Linked DNA regions of Homo sapiens: region 2 is linked to region 1. A link means that fine-mapping ties the variant in region 1 to the expression of a gene that starts in the linked region. Tissue or cell type: whole blood. Region 1 holds a variant in brackets; the other region holds the start of a gene. All regions are shown on one strand. Distances are between the middles of the regions.

Evidence for each region. PIP is the estimated chance that this variant, and not a neighbour inherited with it, causes the effect.
Region 2: TCFL5 starts here. The variant in region 1 is fine-mapped to the expression of TCFL5 in whole blood (INTERVAL, PIP above 0.99).

The regions. Positions count from the first base shown.
Region 1 is chr20:62,818,698-62,826,697 of GRCh38, forward strand. It overlaps COL9A3 (collagen type IX alpha 3 chain), which reads left to right. Exons shown (of 32, transcript NM_001853.4): 4 at 525-596; 5 at 1,232-1,285; 6 at 2,484-2,519; 7 at 2,810-2,833; 8 at 3,060-3,113; 9 at 3,414-3,467; 10 at 3,894-3,935; 11 at 5,748-5,804; 12 at 6,271-6,324; 13 at 7,120-7,173; 14 at 7,507-7,560. Among named protein-coding and RNA genes, the nearest start is that of COL9A3, 5.6 kb to the left of the region's middle. RefSeq lists enhancers at 1-655, 4,537-5,225, 5,226-5,913 and a silencer at 6,502-6,561. The variant T/G (reference allele first, on the strand shown) is at 4,733.
Region 2 is chr20:62,856,999-62,866,926 of GRCh38, forward strand. It overlaps TCFL5 (transcription factor like 5), which reads right to left and starts at 4,824. Exons shown (of 6, transcript NM_006602.4): 1 at 4,026-4,824; 2 at 3,127-3,310; 3 at 2,366-2,528; 4 at 397-640. The coding sequence starts at 4,672. LOC105372717 (a long non-coding RNA gene) reads left to right here and starts at 4,437. Exons shown (of 4, transcript XR_936989.4): 1 at 4,437-4,543. RefSeq lists silencers at 4,243-4,392, 4,893-5,082, 5,133-5,232 and an enhancer at 4,617-5,271.

The DNA.
Region 1 (8,000 bases):
CTGGAGCCAGCGGGGCGGGAGGGGAGTGTGTGGGCTCAGCCTCTGCATGTTCAGGGCAGGGCCTGGCTTTGAAGCTTTCTTTGGACCAGCGCCAGGCAGGCCGGGACCGGGGCTGGTACAGCCCTTCAGGTCCCCCAGGCCTGAGGTCACCTGGAGCCCTCCCACCTTCTTCAGTTCCAGGGGTTGAGGGTCCTGGGGCTCAGAGCCCTGTCTGGGCCCACTGGGGGTCCGACAGAGATGCCTGCTGGCCCTTAGCCAGGGAGGCCGAGGTGACCAGACGAAGGTCTTACAGATGCCACTGAGGGATGGGGCGGGCAGCCTTCCTGGGCCAGCAAGGTGTGGGCAAGCAGGACACACGTGCCCCAGCTGAGCCGGGTCTGCCAGACAGTAGGGGGGACCCAGGAGAGGGGCCCATCCCGTATGGTTGGGCTGGGGGGAAGTGGAAAGCATTTTGCTTCATTGCTGAAGGCCTGGGCTCCAGGCCAGACCCCGCCTTCACATCTCTGCCCTTTCCTCCTGCACAGGGACCAAAGGGGGCCCCAGGAAAGCCGGGGAAACCAGGAGAGGCTGGGCTGCCGGGACTGCCGGGTGTGGATGTGAGTGCGCCTGCCCCTCCCCGCCATGCCCCACTCCCCGCTCCGGGTCCCTGGAGGAGTCCGGCCCTAATTGCTGTTGTCCAGCTGGGCCTGCTCAGGCGGGAAGCCCAGTCCTGAGAGAAGTCTCCAGAAGTCCCCAACAGGGGTCCTTTGGCCTTCATCCCAGACGCCACCAGCATCTGGCAGGGGACAGAGCCAGCCCAGTGGAGTCGGAAGTCCCGCCAGCCCTCCTTGCTTGTCCAGGAATGAGTGCCCATTGTCAGGACCTTCTGCCCACTGCTGGCCTCACTTAGTCATCTTGGGCTCCAGGCCTGGCCCCAGGGCCACGGAGTTTTGTTCGGAGGAAGCCGGGCCTGAGAAGTGAGCTGTCCAGTCCTGCTGGGTTGGTCCCCGAGGCCTGACTACAGCAGGTGCCTCCGTTGCTGGCTTCCCGCTGGCTGCCCCCTCCCTCCTCCCAGAGCCTCTGGCTACAGCAGGCAGACAGTGGACAGGGCCAAGAGAGGAGGCTGCCACCCTAAGGGTCTTCTATGCCTCTCTGGACTCACCAAGGGAAGGGTCCGTGCTTCCATTTTTGCCTGGGGGGTGGCATGTGCTTCCCATGTGGCCCCTCGAGCTCGCCCTCTGCCTCTCCCCAGGGTCTGACTGGACGAGATGGACCCCCTGGACCCAAGGGTGCCCCTGGGGAACGGGTAAGTGCCTGCGCCGAACCCAGTGGCTTGGGTTCAGAGGTGAGGTCCCCTGGCCACCTCTGGCTGCTCTGTGTCCACAAGGCCAAGGAGCTGGTAGTTCCAAGGACAGCTGCCCTGCCCGTGCCTGGGGTGGAGGGGCAGAAGGGCAGGGTGCCAAGTGGCCAGTCCCCTGTGCCTGCCTCCCTGCCTCACCTCCACGTATGGTCAGAGTTGTCCTGGTATCCAGACCATGGCAGGGAGAAGGGGGATGGTTTGGGGGAACCCACCCCAGGTGCCTCCTCAGAATGTCCCTGAAGCCCCCAGGGCCCTGGGCAGACCACCACCAGGGACCCCCGGGCACGCAGCCTGCAGAGTCCCCTGTGCCTGCCTGTTGGACACTGAATCCTTTACCCTGACGGAGCGGCACCACCACCCAAGGGTGCCTTTCTCCCCTTGTGGCTTCTGAGTACAAACCCGAAGCCAGCATTCTCTCTTTGGCTTCATAAGACGTGGCTGTCAGCCAACCGGGTGCCACTGGCCCCAGGCGCAAAGCATCACAGAGGGCAGGAAGGCTGGGCTGGGGACACGAGGACACAGCCCTGCCCTTGGGACCCTTGGGAGCTCGTCAGGCATGAGGCGGATTCTGAGCTGAAAACAGGAGGGAAACAGTAGCTGCTGGCAGCCGAGTCCGTGGTGCCCAGGGGTGTGGGGTGGGCTGGTCCCCAGGCTTTCAGGAGGGGCCTCCAGCCTCAGCACAGGGCCCGTGCGTGCCGTCCAGGGAATGAGGCATTTCAGGCAGCAGGGGCCAGACAGGGCCCAGAGGGTGTGGAGGGCAGACAGGGCCTGGCTGCCCAAGGCTCTGGGGCTCGCTGACGTGGGCGGGGGCTGAGGACTCAGCAGGCTCCGTGGGTGGGTTATCGGGAGGGCTTCCTGGTGGAGACAGGCACCCCGGGTCACTTCGGTGCCTCTCAGCCCTGCCTCAGGTTGCACCTTCTTGCAGCGAGCGCTGGGACTCTGGTGCCATCTGTCTCCAGCAGCTCCCCAGGACGGCAAAGACCCTCCAGGTCAAGAGGGCTCAGAGGCCCTGCCCCTCTGTGAAGTGGGGACTTGGACCCTGTTGTCCTGGGAGTTGGAGTTGTGACGTCACACTTCAGAGGGAGGGGATTGGGTTTGCAAATAGAGGCCCAGCCCAACCTAGACGCCTGCTTTCCTCCCACAGGGAAGTCTGGGACCCCCGGGGCCGCCCGGGCTGGGGGTGAGTATGGAGTGTGGTCCTCTCCTCTCCATGGGAGTTTGGGGAGCTGGAGAGTCTGGTCTAAATGGGGTGGCCTCCAGGAATCCCAGGGACCATCCCTGGCCCTCTCATCTGCAGCCTCTCCGGAGGCTGGTGCCTGGATGGGGTCCTGGTGCCCTCTCTGGGCTGGGACCAGACACCCATCCCTGGAACCGCCCTTTCCCCAGGACCCACCTGAGCCATCTTAGGGAGGGGTGAGGCGCAGCCCTTCTTGTGCCTGGCAGGCTCTGACCCCATGTTTGGCTTTGCAGGGCAAAGGCCTCCCTGGACCCCCCGTGAGTACTGACAACCCTTGGGGCCCTGAGCAAGCACGCAAGTCCCGAGAGCCTGCCAGGCTGGGATGTCCCAAACCGTGCCTGGGGGTGGGGCTTCTCAGGGGCAGCCATCTGACCACCCCATACTTGGAGCCCCTCTCCCTTCGGAGGCGGCACACCAACCCTGGGTGGGGATCCTCGGGGCTTCCGGGTGCAGACCTCCCCACCTCTCTTTACTTCCCTCCAGGGAGAGGCAGGAGTGAGCGGCCCCCCAGGTGGGATCGGCCTCCGCGGCCCCCCGGTGAGTGGCTGTCCCAGAGCCCCTCAGAGTGTGCTCACCTGTGGCCTCCACCCCCAGACTCAACAGCCAGGGGCTCCCTTCCCCTCTCCCTTTTCCCTTTCTCCCCCAACCCCACCTTGGTGGGTGTTGGTAGAAGCCCTGGCCAATGATCCAGACCCGACCTCAGGACGCAGACACCAGCACAGTCCGTGGGAGTGGGGGCTGGTGGGAGCTGGGCGTGTCCACCTCCCTGGGAGAAGCCGGGCACCTCACTCAGGTGGGGGCTGGTCCCACTCTGTCTAAGTCATACCCCCTCCCCAGGGACCTTCTGGACTCCCCGGCCTCCCTGGTCCCCCAGGACCTCCCGGACCCCCTGTAAGTACTGGGCAGAGGCTCTAAGAAGTGCTGGGCATGGACTAGGACACTGGGTTGGACCCTCCCCATTCCCCCTCCCCAGGCTCCATGCCCCTCCGAGATCTCCTAACCCTAACTTGGCCACTCCCAGGAACAGTCAATGGTGGGGGCAGTGGCTGTGGCTAGGCCAGCCAACTTGGGGATGGTCAGGACTCAGGTCCCCATGGCCATCCTGCCCCAAGGACAGGTGGATTCTGTCGTTGTCACATGCCCTGTGGGTGGGCCAGCAGCTCCCAGCACTGGCCACTTGGGGGACAGGATGAAGGGTCTCCAAGTCCCCTGGTGGATGGGGAAGGTTGTGGTCCGTCAGAGAGTGGGTGGGTGGGTTGGGTGGCTGCAGGTGGCTGGGGAGGGCGGGAGAATGTCAGCTGTCTCTTTTTGTCTTAGGGACACCCAGGAGTCCTCCCTGAAGGCGCTACTGACCTTCAGGTAGGCACTTGAAGCCATTTGTTAAGGGTGCTGGGGGGTGCCTACCTTGGGGGGAGGGGTTCTGGCCTGGAGAGGGGCTTGTCCATACTGGCAAGAAGGCAGGGCCCGAGCCCTCCCTGGGGACAGGAGCTCAGAGCAGACAGCTCGGGCACAACCTGGCAGAGAGGCTGGCTGGGACCTCCCCCTCCCCCTTCCCACCCTCCTCACCACCGTCTAGACCTGCACTGTCCCTCATGAAGCCACCAGGCGCATGGAGCTGTACAAATGTAATGAATCACAATCATGTCACAGAGCCATCCAGCTCCCCTGCGTCATCCGCAGAGGGCGCCCTTGGCCACAGATGGCGACAGAACTGGAGTCTGGGACCCACCTTTATCTTGATCTTTGAGCCTTGTCATTTGCCTGAAAAGAAAACAGGCTCAGGTCAGGCGCAGTGGCTCAGGCCTGTAATCCCAGCACTTTGGGAGGCCCAGACAGGAGGATCGCTTAAGCTCAGGAGTTTGAGACCAGCCTGGGCAACATAGTGAGATCTTTGTCTCTACAAAAAATTGTTAAAGTAGCCAGACGTGGTGGCGTGCCTGTTGTCCTAGCTACTTGGATGGCTGTGGTGGGAGGATCACTTGAGCCCAGGAGGCAGTGGTTGCAGGGTGCTGTGATCAAGCCACTGCACTCCAGCGTGAGCAGCCAAGCTCAAGCCTGTCTCAAAAAAATGAAGAGGAAAGAAAATGGGCTTCGGAGGCCACGGATCCATCTCTCCTCTCTGTTTGGCCGTCCGTGGTGGCAGTCAGCGCCTTGTT[T/G]CCATAGAGAGGTTTGATAGTTTTGAAGGGAAAAGCTCGGCCCACTCTGACCTGACCACCGACGCTGTCTACCAGCCTCTCTCCTCACCCCACCCCGGGGCCTAGGTGCCTGGCCAGCCTGTGTCCCAGAAGGGAGGCTTTAGGGAACCTTCCAGAATGTGGTGCGTGGTTGGGCCCCCGATCGTGGGCTGAGTGGGGCAGGGGCTGAAGATACGGGTCTGCACCCTTGGCCTGGCCTGCCCATTGCAGCTGTAGGATCATCTAGAAGCAGCCCTGGGTTTCCTGAGCATCAGACCTGTTGCCTGGGCTCACAGTGCCCCTCCTAAAAGCCCCATGCCGAGCACATTCCTGTGCTGAGGATGGGCCCGACCTGAGGCTGCTGCAAGGCCCCCTGCAGTGCCGGCCGGGACTGTGCTGAATGGCTGCTTTGATAGCCAGTGTCTGCCGTGGGGCCGGCTGCTCCATGCAGCCCCTGCTGCACTTGGCCAGTGCTGAAGGAGACCCTGTCTGTGTCCTGTCCCAGTGCCATCACCTGTACGGAGTGGCCTCCTGGGGTCCCGTCACTGTGTGGAGTGGCCTCCTGGGGTCCCGTCACTGTGTGGAGTGGCCTCCTGGGGTCCTGTCACCCAGAGTGTCCCGACACCCGCGCGGAGTGGCCTCCTGGGGCCCCGTCACCCACGCGGAGTGGCCTCCTGGGGTCCCGTCTCTGTGTGGAGTGGCCTCCTGGGGTCCTGTCACCCAGAGTGTCCCGACACCCGCGCGGAGTGGCCTCCCGGGGCCCCGTCACCCACGTGGAGTGGCCTCCTGGGGTCCCATCATCTGTGCGGAGTGGCCTCCTGGGGTCCCGTCACTGATGCGGAGTGGCCTCCTGGGGTCCTGTCACCATGAGGAGTGGCCTCCCGGGGTCCCGTCACCGTGCAGAGTGGCCTCCTGGGGTCCCGCGGGCGCTGACCCCTGCGTCGGACGTCCTGCTCTGTTTGGCTGGGAGGGGTCTGACTGCTCTGTTTTCCGACAGTGCCCAAGTATCTGCCCGCCAGGTCCCCCAGGGCCCCCTGGAATGCCAGGGTTCAAGGTGAGTCACGGGTGACTGGGACCCAAGCACCACCCTGTGCTGGGCAGGAGGCAGCTGGGCTCCCATGGGGCTGTGGAGGTGGCGGGTCCAGAAAGCTGGACCCTGGTTCCAGGGTTGCCCCAGGAAGAAAGCTAGGCCAGCCTCCTTGTCCCGCCTTCAGCACCCCAGTGACACGCTGATGTGGCCAGGCTGGGACTGGCCATAGGCGTCAGAGACTGCGGGGGAGAGCTAGCCTCAAGCTCCCACCCCAGCCCAGCCCTGGCCCGCTCCTGACCGCAGAGCGCCCTCATGTGGGTCCTAGCGCCTCTCAGGCCTCAGTTTCCCCATGAGGGCCCAGACCCGCGGTCCTGTGCGCTGCCGTGTGGCGGGCCCTGGGCTGACTGACCCTGCAGGCCTCACTTCAGTGTTGCCAGGGAGGGGGTGTCGGGGGGTCTGGGTGGGGCAGTGACCCCACATTTGCTTGCAGGGACCCACTGGCTACAAAGGCGAGCAGGGGGAAGTCGGCAAGGACGGCGAGAAGGTGAAGCTGCCGCACAGCAGCTGGGGAGGAGCTGGGGACTGGAGGCTGGGCTCCGGCGGGAGGGAGGGGCTGGGCTCCGGCGGGAGGGAGGGGCTGGGCTCCGGCGGGAGGGAGGGGCTGGGCTCCGGCGGGAGGGAGGGGCTGGGCTCCGGCGGGAGGGAGGGGCTGGGCTCCGGCGGTGGGGAGGGACCGTTTCATGGGTGCACCTGCACTGGCACCTTCTGTGCCTGTCTTCCAGACAGGGCCTGGCTGGTCAGAGCTGGGTGATTTAGGCAGGGTCCCTGGACAGACCCCGTCCTGCCTGGCCTCGCTGTGGAAGCTCCCTGGTTTGTGTCTGTGGCCGGGGCGAGGGGCATCTGTGAGGATGGCTGGCTTTAGCCTGTAGCCTCCCCTCACCTGTGGTCGCTGTCCGTGGAGGGTGTCTGTCCATGGTCACCTGCAGGCCGGGGGACCAGGTCTGGGATGCCCTTTAGCGTGGCTGGAGTGATCAGATGAGGAGACCCCAGGTGCACATCAGAGGGGTCCCTGCTTGGCCACGAGGAGGGGCCTGGACAGGGCTGAAGGGCCTTGTGGGAACAGTGACCACGGACCCCGGCCCGGCAGGGCGAGGCCACCGAGACTCGCGGGACTGCTCTGGAACTGTGGGCAAGTGTCCCCTTCACAGAGCCTCCAAGGCCCAGCTGTGAAGGGGGCAACACCCCCAGCTGCTTGGGCTTGAGTAGGGTGACTGGAGGCACCGAAAGGTGCAAGGAGAGCCAGACTGGGCCGCTGACCACCCTATCCCCTCTGTTTCAGGGTGACCCTGGCCCCCCTGGGCCCGCCGGCCTCCCGGGCAGCGTGGGGCTGCAGGTGAGGCTAGGAAGGGGTAAGGATGGTGGGATGGGAACTCAGCCCACAGAGTGATCAAGCCCTGCACATATCTACCCCCGAGGGGGCCAGCTCCGGCTGGGGGGTGTTTGGCCAACACCCAGGCACAGGAGCGCGACCTGGCTGGGGGTCCCACCTCTGCCAAGGCTGCTGACCTCAAGGCTGGTGCCCCCTCCCTCTGGGGGACCTGAGCTGAGGCTGAGGGCTCATGGAAGACACCAGGGCTCCCAGGGGTACCCCGAGGGCCTTGGCCCTGGGTGCTCCCCGGGGTGGAGGTGCAGCCCCAGCCTCTGCATCTGTGCCTCTCTCTCGCAGGGCCCCCGGGGATTACGAGGACTGCCAGGGCCACTCGGGCCCCCTGGGGACCGGGTAAGTCCTGCAGCCCCTAGTGGGGGCCGGCCAGGTGGCTGGGGGCCTGGTTGTCTGCACCTCCAGACTTCAGATGGGCCCCGTGAGTGACACTCTGAAGCAGCCGGCACCCTGGCTCTGGCCATCGCCACTGTGGCGCAGGCCTTGCTCTGGGCCCCTGTTCTCGCATGTGCCTGGGCGAGAGCTGACAGTCGGCGCTCACTGATGCCCGCACGCGGTCCCAGGCTGCTGTGAGGGCTATTCACGCGTGTGCCCGGGCGAGGGCTGATGAACTCTGCTCGCTGACACCCACACACACGGTCCCAGGCTGCTGTGAGGGCTGTTGTGGCTTAGGCCAGAGCAGGAGGGGAAGCAGGGATTTGGAGACTACTAGGTGGCATCTTGGGGGAACTTGCTGGGGAGCCCTAGAGGAAGGGCTGCTTGTGTCTGGGCCGCCCCTG
Region 2 (9,928 bases), 39 kb after region 1:
TCCTGGTTGGCAACACCTCACCCACGTTTTCAGACCACATGGCTGGGGGCATGAGGGGCAACCTGCCTGACTCCACAGGGCGCGCTCTTAGAAGCTTGCACCTCAGCTCCTGCCTTCTCCCCACGCGCCTTTGCTGATCGCACCTGGCATCCTTTCTCCATAGTAAGTCACAGCCTGAGAGTGACTGCATGCGGAGTCCCGGGAGTCCTCCTAGTGAGCCAGCGAGCCTGGGCATAGTCTGGGGGATCCTTGATCCATCTGGGAAAGCTAACGATGCTCCTACCTGCTTTATTCCCTCTGAACGCAGAAACGGCTAAGGATCACTCATCTGTGATAACCATGTATGACTAAGGTAATCATATATGAGTCAGCCTGACAAGCAGTCACACGTATTACCTTCTATCTCTTTCCATTCGGTTATGCCTCTCCCTACGTTGAGACCTTCCTCCCTGGGGCCCACTCTGGGCCTGCTCCCCCAGGTTTGCCTGTGAGGACTCCGAGGACTGCCAAGCGCCTTGTGTGGCGGTGGCACCTTCGCCCACATTCTGAATCTCTCCAAGGGCTCTTCGCTCTACATTTGTGTCCAACTGACGCATTCTACTCCGATTCCTCTTCAGTGCTTGTTTGCATAGCGCTGCTTCTTTGCGAAAGAAGAAAAAAGTGGTTTTTAATTTTGTATTCTTATCTCAATTAATGCTGAATACAGTTTTGGCCTTTTCAATCCAAGATATAAACATTATTGGGTAAGCAGCACAGAGAACCGAAACACAAAGAGATGTACTAATGCAGTTTTTCAGCATCAGCAGGGACCATGAAGCCCAAGCCTATTTTATACAACGAAACTGAACAAGAATCAATCATCACACTAAATACGTTTTCCAAGTGCTATGCAACCAATATGACCTCATCCAAAGCCCCTCTTTTTAATTAACAGGTGTTATCTATGAATACAGAAAACAAGAAGTTGTTTACTTTTTCTAAAGGTCAGAATGGAAAAAAAAAAACAACAACAACAAACCACCTGGACATATTTCCTCCCAAAAATATTTTCTTTATATACAATTATTCTAAGAACAAGAAAAAAAAACAATTATTCTAATATGACAGTATTTTTACTGCAATGCTCAGAACAAAACTGCAGCAGCGTGTGTGTGTGCCCTCGCCGCAGAAGTGGCTCTCCTCCCCAAAGCAGGAAGAAGTAGCGTCCGAGCTTTTCTGCTGCGTGACAGGCTATGCCACGTGTGCGTCAGTGGAACTGTATCCATCAAAGGACCACAGGCACGTGACTGGCAGGCGTGCTCATGTGCACGCGTATGCCACACAAAGCACCCATTTCAGAAGGATGATGAAGCTTTCAGCAGGAGAGAGAGGAATTCGGTCGTTTTGGTGATATTTTATTCCTTAACCTGAGTAGTCGGCACAGAGGCTGCTTTAATACTCATCTTTGTATCTTACAAATGTGAACATATACTTTGGCATAAAATTTTATAGGGAGGAAAAGGAAGGACTGACATGGGAGAAGGCGGTAGCTCTTCCTCCCCATCTTGTCTTCACCAACTCTTGGAAAGCTAAGTGTAAGGAGTGTTCTTTTTTCGGGTCACTTCACAAATCAGTTTCCCAGGGAGGAAGGGGCTACGCAGGTGTTTCCCAGGGAGGAAGGGGCTATGCAGGTGTTTCCCAGGGAGGAAGGGGCTACGCAGGTGTTTCCCAGGGAGGAAGGGGCTACGCAGGTGTTTCCCAGGGAGGAAGGGGCTACGCAGGTGTTTCCCAGGGAGGAAGGGGCTACGCAGGTGTTTCCCAGGGAGGAAGGGGCTACGCAGGTGTTTCCCAGGGAGGAAGGGGCTACGCAGGTGTTTCCCAGGGAGGAAGGGACTATGCAGGTTAGCGCAGCAGTGCCTTCAGCAGTGACTTTATTTCCAAACTTTCCGAATCACCTTACAGCCTCTCCCTGGCAGCCCTAATAGGGTCCTCCTATTAGCAGCCACCTATCCAAAGGCTTTCGGCAGATGTTAGATGACTGCCTCACTCATCGAGTATAACATAAGGAAAATAAAAAACTATAAAGTACTTTCAGTAACTTGAAAATAACTGAAAATTTATGTAAGTCTATCACTTTACTGTTAAGAAAAAGCCCTCAAACGCAACGTTCTCACACCAAGATTAATTATGTTTGAGAATCAGAATAATGTTTAAAGCGAAAAGACAGGGAAGCGGGTGGACAGACCCCTGAGATACACAGACACCTCCAAGACTGTTTCACATGTGTACAAACCATCTGTCTCCCCTGCCCCCCAAGGCCAAAATGCCATCAGCCACAGGGCTCAGTCAGAAGAAAGCTCCCACTACCTGCTGCTTCATCGCTTACCTCCCACTTTAATCCAAACTTGCTCAGGCAAAACTTTGTTTCTACTACCTAACGTCTGTTTAGTGGATTCAATTTCTTGCTGATAACAGAAAGAAAATGCTCTAGGCAATCCAATATCCTGGTGCTTGGCAGCTTCAAGTACAGAACATGAGTTACTAGAACTCTGGAAAAAAATGAAGCAACAGGAATTTTATCAATATGTGGCTTACTCTCCTCTTTACTGCACAAATGAAATGCACTTAACAAACATCAAAACTACTAACACGTAATTTGAAGAACTTTAGTTGCACTGAAGATTTAAAAATATTCGCATACCACATAAACACTCAACTTTCACAGGTATTTTTTTGTTTTTGTTTTTTTGTTTTTTTTTTTGAGACAGGCTCTCACTCTGTCGCCCAGACTGGAGTGCAGGGTCGCGATGTCAGCCCACCACAACCTCCACCTCCCAGGCTCAAGCGATTCTCCCGCCTCAGCCTCCTGAGCAGCTGGGATTACAGGTGTCCGCCACTACCACCTGGTTAATTTTCGTACGGGGTTTCACCATGTTGGCCAGGCTAGTCTTGAACTCCTGAACTCAAATGACCCACCCACCTCGGCCTCCCAAAGTGCTGGGATTACAGGTGTCGGCCTTGGCGCCCGGCTTAAAAGGTTATTAAGCTCACTGAAGGGAAAAAAAAGTACTTGGGACCTAACCAAAATAAGTTAAAATTTACCCATTTAATACAAAAGAGCAAAGCTTCACAAATCATGTTCCCTACCTGTGTCTGTGAAAGATTAGAATTTCCACTAGTAGAGCAAGCATTTGTAGTAAACAGTGGGTATGTAAATTGCAAAGCAGTAGTTGTAGCCGCAGTTTTATTTTTCACTAATGCTGTACATTTGTTTTGTTGCTGAAGAGGAACATTCATTAGTTCAGATGGATGTCGAATGAGAGTTACCAAACTGCCAAGACAAAAGAAAGCCCAGAAGTGTCAGCAATACGTGGCAGACAAGCATCCACCATCCCACTCCCATGGCTCTGGCTAGTTTTTCCAGACAGCAACCCAACTCTCATCCTGGAAATCTCTACACAACAATTAGCAACTATCGCTGCTGTGGAAGTCCTCCTCTTCCTATGGAGGAAAAGCAAAACTGCGCCACCTCCCTGCTCTCATCACATCCTGACACCAATCTCACTTTTGCCATCCTCCAGTGTGACCACGATGGGCAACTACAGGCTGGGATGAGCAGAAAACTGCGGACGCAGCCCCTTCCACAGCCATCCCTGAGGGTCGCCAAGGGGGCGGCTGCAGGCTGGAGCCTCATTTTAGAGCTCAAAGCCTGCAAACCCCCGTCGGGCCTTCCTAGGCTTCCCTGACATCCAAGAGTGCCACCCGGAGCACATGGTTCCCAGGAATTCTGCGCGCTCGGCCCCACTCCAGGCGGGGCCACTGAGGGAGGGGGTGTTTAGTTTCTGGAAGTACCTGCTCCCCGGGGCCCGCACAGCGCACACAGCCTTTCGGGGCGGCCCCAGACCCGGTGAGGTCCGCGCCCTGTGCCGCCGGGAGGGCAGGCTGGGGGCGTGCACAGCGAGGGCCCCCTTTGCCTCCGCCCCGGCCCCGGCCCCGGCCTCGGCCTCCACCCGGGCCCCGCCAGCCCCCGGCCGCCGGGCACGCACTTGTTGAGCGCCCCGCCCGGCTCGGGGGGCTCGGGGCCGCGCGGCGCGGGCGGCGGCTCGGCGGGGATGCTGTTGAAGCGGTCCTCCAGGCGGACGCGCACGGCCGGCTTGGCCCGGGCCTCGGGCGCGCCGTCGGGTCCAGCCGCAGCCGCAGCCGCGCCCGCGCCCTCCTTGGCGGCGCCGTCGGCCCGGGCCCTCGCTCCGTCCCCGCCGCCCGACGTCTTCTCCGCCGCGCCCGCCTCGCTTAGCAGCATCATGCGCAGCTCCTGGAAGTCGATGTGGCCCAGGCAGGGCGCGTCGGCCGCCAGCGCGGACGGGCACAGCACGGGGTACACGGGCGCCGCGCCCCCCTGACCGCCCGCCGCGAAGCCGCCCGCGCCTGCGCCCGGGCCCGCCGCCGCCAGCAGCGCCGAGTTGAGGCGCGTCTCGAGCTCGCCGTCAGCCGCCGCCTCCATGTGCGAGCAGAGGATGTGCTGCAGCTGCGTGTACTCCACCTCCGTCATCTCCACCAGGCTCAGGTCGGTGGTCGTGAAGCTCAGCCCCGGCTCGCCCAGCGCCGCGTCCCCGCCGCCCGCGCCCTCGACGGCCGCCTCGCCGCCTGCCGCGCCTGCCTCCGGCGGCGGCTCCCGCGGTCCGGGGCCCGACATGGCGGCGCGGCGCGGCCCAACGGCGGCGAGGGCGACGCGGGCGGCGGGCGGCGGGAGGCGGGAGGCGGGAGGCGGGAGGCGACCCCCGGCCCGAGCACTACTCTGCGCCGGCCACAGCCGGCGCGCCGTTGGGGGAGGGAAAACCGCTGAGTGCCGCGCACAGCGCCTGCGCCGCCCCGCCCCGCAACGGCAACCCCACCCCTGCGCCAGCCCCGCCCCCTCCGTTACCCGCCGCCGCCGGCCCCGCCCCCGCCCAACCGCCCGCACGCCCGGCCCCGCCCCACGTCGGCGGATGCTTGCGCGGAGGGCCCGCCCCCACGGCCCAGCCACGCCCCCACAGCTAGGCCACGCCCCCAGCTCAGGCCACGCCCGGTTCCCAGCCACGCCCCTGCTGCCCGGCCACTCCCCGCTGAGGCCCGGCGAGGGCGGCTGCGCTGGAATCAGCGTGATACCTACGCGGTGACACCCTGGGGAGAAGCCACGTCCGTGCGTGCACGTGCGCCCCATTACAGCGGCAGGAATGAAGACGTTGTCAAAACAGCTCCCTGGACCCACAGTCCACAGTGCCCAGGCCATCCGCTTCATCCGCGTAAAATGCGCAGCGCATGGCCGGGTTCTGTGGCTCATGCCTGTAATCCCAGTACTTTGGGAGGCCGAGGCAGGTGGATCAGGAGGTCAGGAGATCGAGACCAGCCTGGCCAACATGGTGAAACCCCGTCTCTACTAAAAATACAAAAATTAGCTGGACGTGGTAGTGCGTGCCTGTAATCCCAGCTACTCGGGAGGCTGAGGCAGGAGAATCGCTTGAACCCGGGAGGCGGAGGTTGCAGTGAGTCGAGATCTTGCCACTGCACTCCAGCCTGGGCAACAGAGCCAGACTTCATCTCAAAAAAAAAAAAAAAATGCACAGCGCGACGGTGGTGGTACATTCCCAGCGCTGGGCCCGCCTCCACCGCTGCATTCACCACCGGTCTCCTGTAGCAGTCAGCACACTGCCCCTCCCCCGCCTGCAGCCACTAATCTTCTGTGTCCAGGAGTTTGCCTAGGCTGGGCCTTCCCTGTTAAGGGAACTATGCAATATGTGGTCTTTAAGAGACTTATTTTTGCAATCTTGAAATAATTCCTGTACTTAACCTCTCACCCACATTCCCATCTCACTCAGTGGTTGTCTGTTCTCTGTCTAGGCATTAGGACACTTAAAGGCCTGTGACTTGCACATCGTCTTCTAAGCCGGGTCTGAATCTTTCGCTCATTTCATCACAGTTTAGACACAGACCAATATATTACAATGATTCAACGATGGGCTATGAAAGCTCAGCCATGCAAATCTAAACTCACACATGTATACATGAAAATAATATATCAGTTTTGGGCAAAACATCAGGTTTCAGAAAACACTACCAAGGAGGAAAGCAAGGACTTAAAACTCTCAAGGACATGGCAACAGAAGTCGTCTAACGTAAAACAGAGAGGGAAGGCTAAGAGAGTGAGCAGAGCATCAGTGAGCTGTGGGGCCGCTTCAAGCAGTGTGATTTGAAGTCCCCTGGGGGTGGAAGGATGGGGAGAAAGACATTTTAAGAAGTAATGATTGCCAGGTGAGGTGGCTCACGCCTGTAATCCCAGCACTTTGGGAGGCCGAGGCGGGCAGATCCCTTGAGGTCAGGAGTTCGAGATCAGCTTGGCCAACATGATGAAATCTCGTGTCTACTAAAAATATAAAAAATTAGCCAGGTGTGGTGGCATGTGCCTGTAATCCCAGCTACTCAGGAAGCTGAGGCAGAAGAATCGCTGGAACCCGGGAGGTGGAGGTTTCAGTGAGTAGAGATTGCACCACTGCACTCCAGCCTGGGAGACAGAGCAAGACGCTGTCTCAAAAAACAAAAACAAAACAACAAAAAAAAATAATGATTGAAAAGTTTTTTTAAAACTACAAACCTACAGACCCAAGAAGTTTAACATACCTCAAACTCAAGAAACATGAAGGAAACTACACCAAGATGGAAAGCAAATTGCTTTATTTATTTATTTTTTTATTTTTTGAGATGGAGTCTTGCTCTGTCTCCCAGGCTGGAGTGCAATGGCACGATCTTGACTCAGCACAACCTCTGCCTCCTGGATTCAAGTGATTCTCCTGCCTCAGCCTCCTGAATAGCTGGGATTATAGGCATGTGCCACCATGCCTGGCCAATTTTTTGTATTTTTAGTAGAGACGGGATTTTGCCATGTTGGTCAGGCTGGTCTTGAACTCCTGACTTCAGGTGATCTGCCCACCTTGGTCTCCCGAATGCTGGGATTACAGGCATAAGCCACCGTGCCTGGCCTCAAATTGCTTTAAATCAGTGAAAAATCTTAAAAGCAGCTGTACACACACACACACACACACACAAGACATTGTGTACAGAGGAACAAAGATAAGAATGATTACAGGCCAGGCGCGGTGGCTCACGCCTGTAATCCCAGCACTTTGGGAGGCTGAGGCGGGCGGATCACAAGGTCAGGAGATCGAGTCCATCCTGGTAAACATGGTGAAATCCCATCTCTACTAAAAATAAAAAAAAATAGCTGGGTGTGGTGGCACAGGCCTGTAATCCCAGGTAACTCAGGAGGCTGAGGCACGAGAACCGCTTGAACCTGGGAGGTGGAGGTTGCAGTGAGCCAAGATCACGCCACTGCCCTCCAGCCTAGTGACAGAGCGAGAGACTCCTTCTAAAAAAATAAATGAAAAGATTGCAGTGATTGCAGACATTTCTTCAGGAATAATGCAAGTCAGAACAGAGTGGAATCACACCTTTGAAGTGCTGAGGGCAAGGGAGAAGCTGACTGATAGTGTCAGGCGTCTGTATTCACAGGCTCTGCGTCTGTGGATTCAACCAAGGATCAAAAATACTCAGAAAAAAATTACTTGCACCGAAATGCACAGACTGCTCTTCCTTGTCATTATTCCTTAAACAATATGGTATAACAAGTATTCATTTAGCATGTACATCGCATGAGGTATTATAAGTAATCTCGATATGTATATATTTTAGAAACAGGGTCTCGCTCTGTCTCCCAGGCTGGAGTAGGATAATACGGTTATAGCTCACTGCAGCCTCGACCTCCTGAGCTCAACCAATCCTCCTGCATGACTCTGCCGAGTAGCTGGGACCACAGGCACACACCACCATGCCCTGCTAATTTTTATTTTATTTTATTTTTTGTAGAGATGGTATCTTACTATGTTGCCCAGGCTGGTCTTGAACTCCTGGCCTCAAGTGATCCTCCCACCTCAGCCTACCAAATTACAGAGATTACAGGTGTGAGTCATCACGCTCGCCGCTACAGATGATTTAAAGTGTATGGAAGAATGTGCATAGGTTATATGGAAACACTATGACATTTTGCATAAGGGACTTGAACATTCGTGGATTTTGGTACCCATGGCAGGTACTGGAACCAATCCCCCAGGGATACTGAGGAATAACTGTAGTTCTATGCCCAGCAAAGATATTTTTCAAAAACAAAGGCAAAATAAAGACTTTTTTGCACTTACAAAAGCTAAAATAATCCATCACTAGCAGACTTGCAGTACAAGACATGTTCCAGAAGTCCTTCAGACAAAAGGAAGGTGAGACTGGATAGAAGTCGGGGTCTCCACAGAAGAATGAAGAGACTGGACGGGTTAAAGCTATTTATTACGAGCCTTACCACAACCACTGCAATACAGCAACAAAGGGTGATGGCTAATAAATCAATAAAGGAGAGAAAATGGAATCAGACTCTCAAAGGGGCAGAAAGTGAGATATGATTGTGCCACTGCACACCAGCCTGAATGACAGACCTCACCTCTAAAGTAAATAAATAAATGATACAAAAATTAAAAATGCAAGAGGCAGAAAAAAGAAAAATAGAACAAAGAGCACACGGGACAAATAGAGAATAAATAGCAAGATAGTAGATTTAAATCCAATAAAAAAAAATCACATGAGATGTAAAAGGTTTAAACACGTCAATGAGAAAGCAGAGACCAGAATGGATAAAAAGTCAGAACTTGGAGGCCGGGCGCGGTGGCTCACGCCTGTAATCCCAGCACTCTGGGAGGCCGAGGCGGGCGGATCACAAGGTCAGGAGATCAAGACCATCCTGGCTAACACGGTGAAACCCCGTCTCTACTGAAAAATACAAAAAATTAGCCAGGCGTGGGGGCGGGCACCTGTAGTCCCAGGTACTCGGGAGGCTGAGGCAGGAGAATGGCGCGAACCTGGGAGGCGGACCTTGCAGTGAGCTGAGGTCCCAGCTCTGCACTCCAGCCTGGGCGACAGAGTGAGACTCTGTAAGTCAGACCTTGGAGTGCCCGTAAGAAACTCATTTTAAAGAGAAAGGATGGAAAGTGCGCACCTCCCTAGCGCTGTCGAAAGGCAGCTGGAATAGGCATATAAACACTAAAGTCAATTTCCAGGAGGCGGGTCTGAAGAAAAAGAAGAAAACAAATACTAAAGTAGATTTCAGAGCCAAGAATTTTGCCAGCGATTCTGGTCATTTCATAGTGAAATAGGGGGCAGAACATTTTCCTGATTAAATGCATCTAATTAGAAAGCTTAAAAATACATGGAGCAGGGCCGGGTGCAGTGGCTCACACCTGTGATCCCAGCACTTTGGGAGGCCGAGGCGAGCGGATCACTTGATGTCAGGAGTTCGAGACCAGCCTGGCTAACATGGCAAAACCCCATCTTTACTAAAAATACAAAAATTGGCTGGGCATGGTGGTGTGCGCCTGTAATCCCAGCTACTTGGCAGGCTGAGGCAGGAGAATCACTTGAACTTGGGAGGCAGAGGTTGCAGTGAACTGATATTGTGCCACTGAACTCCAGCCTGGGCAACAGAGCGAAACCCTGTCTCAAAAAAATAATAAATAAAAAATAACAAAACAAAACAAAACAAACCATGGAGCAGGCCGGGCGCAGTGGCTCACACCTATAATCCCAGCACTTTGGGAGGCCAAGGCGGGCAGATCACAAGGTCAGGAGTTGGAGACCAGTCTGGCCAACATAGTGAAACCCCATCTCTACTAAAAATACAAAAAAATTAGCCGGGCGTGGTGGCGTGAACCTGTAATCCAGCGACTCGGGAGGCTGAAGCAGGGGAATTGCTTGAACCAGAGAAATGGAGGTTGCAGTGAGCTGAGATTGTGCCACTGCACTCCAGCCTGGGCGACAGAGGAAGACTCCATCTCACAAAAAAAAAAAAAATTCTGGGCACGGTGGCTCACGCCTGTAA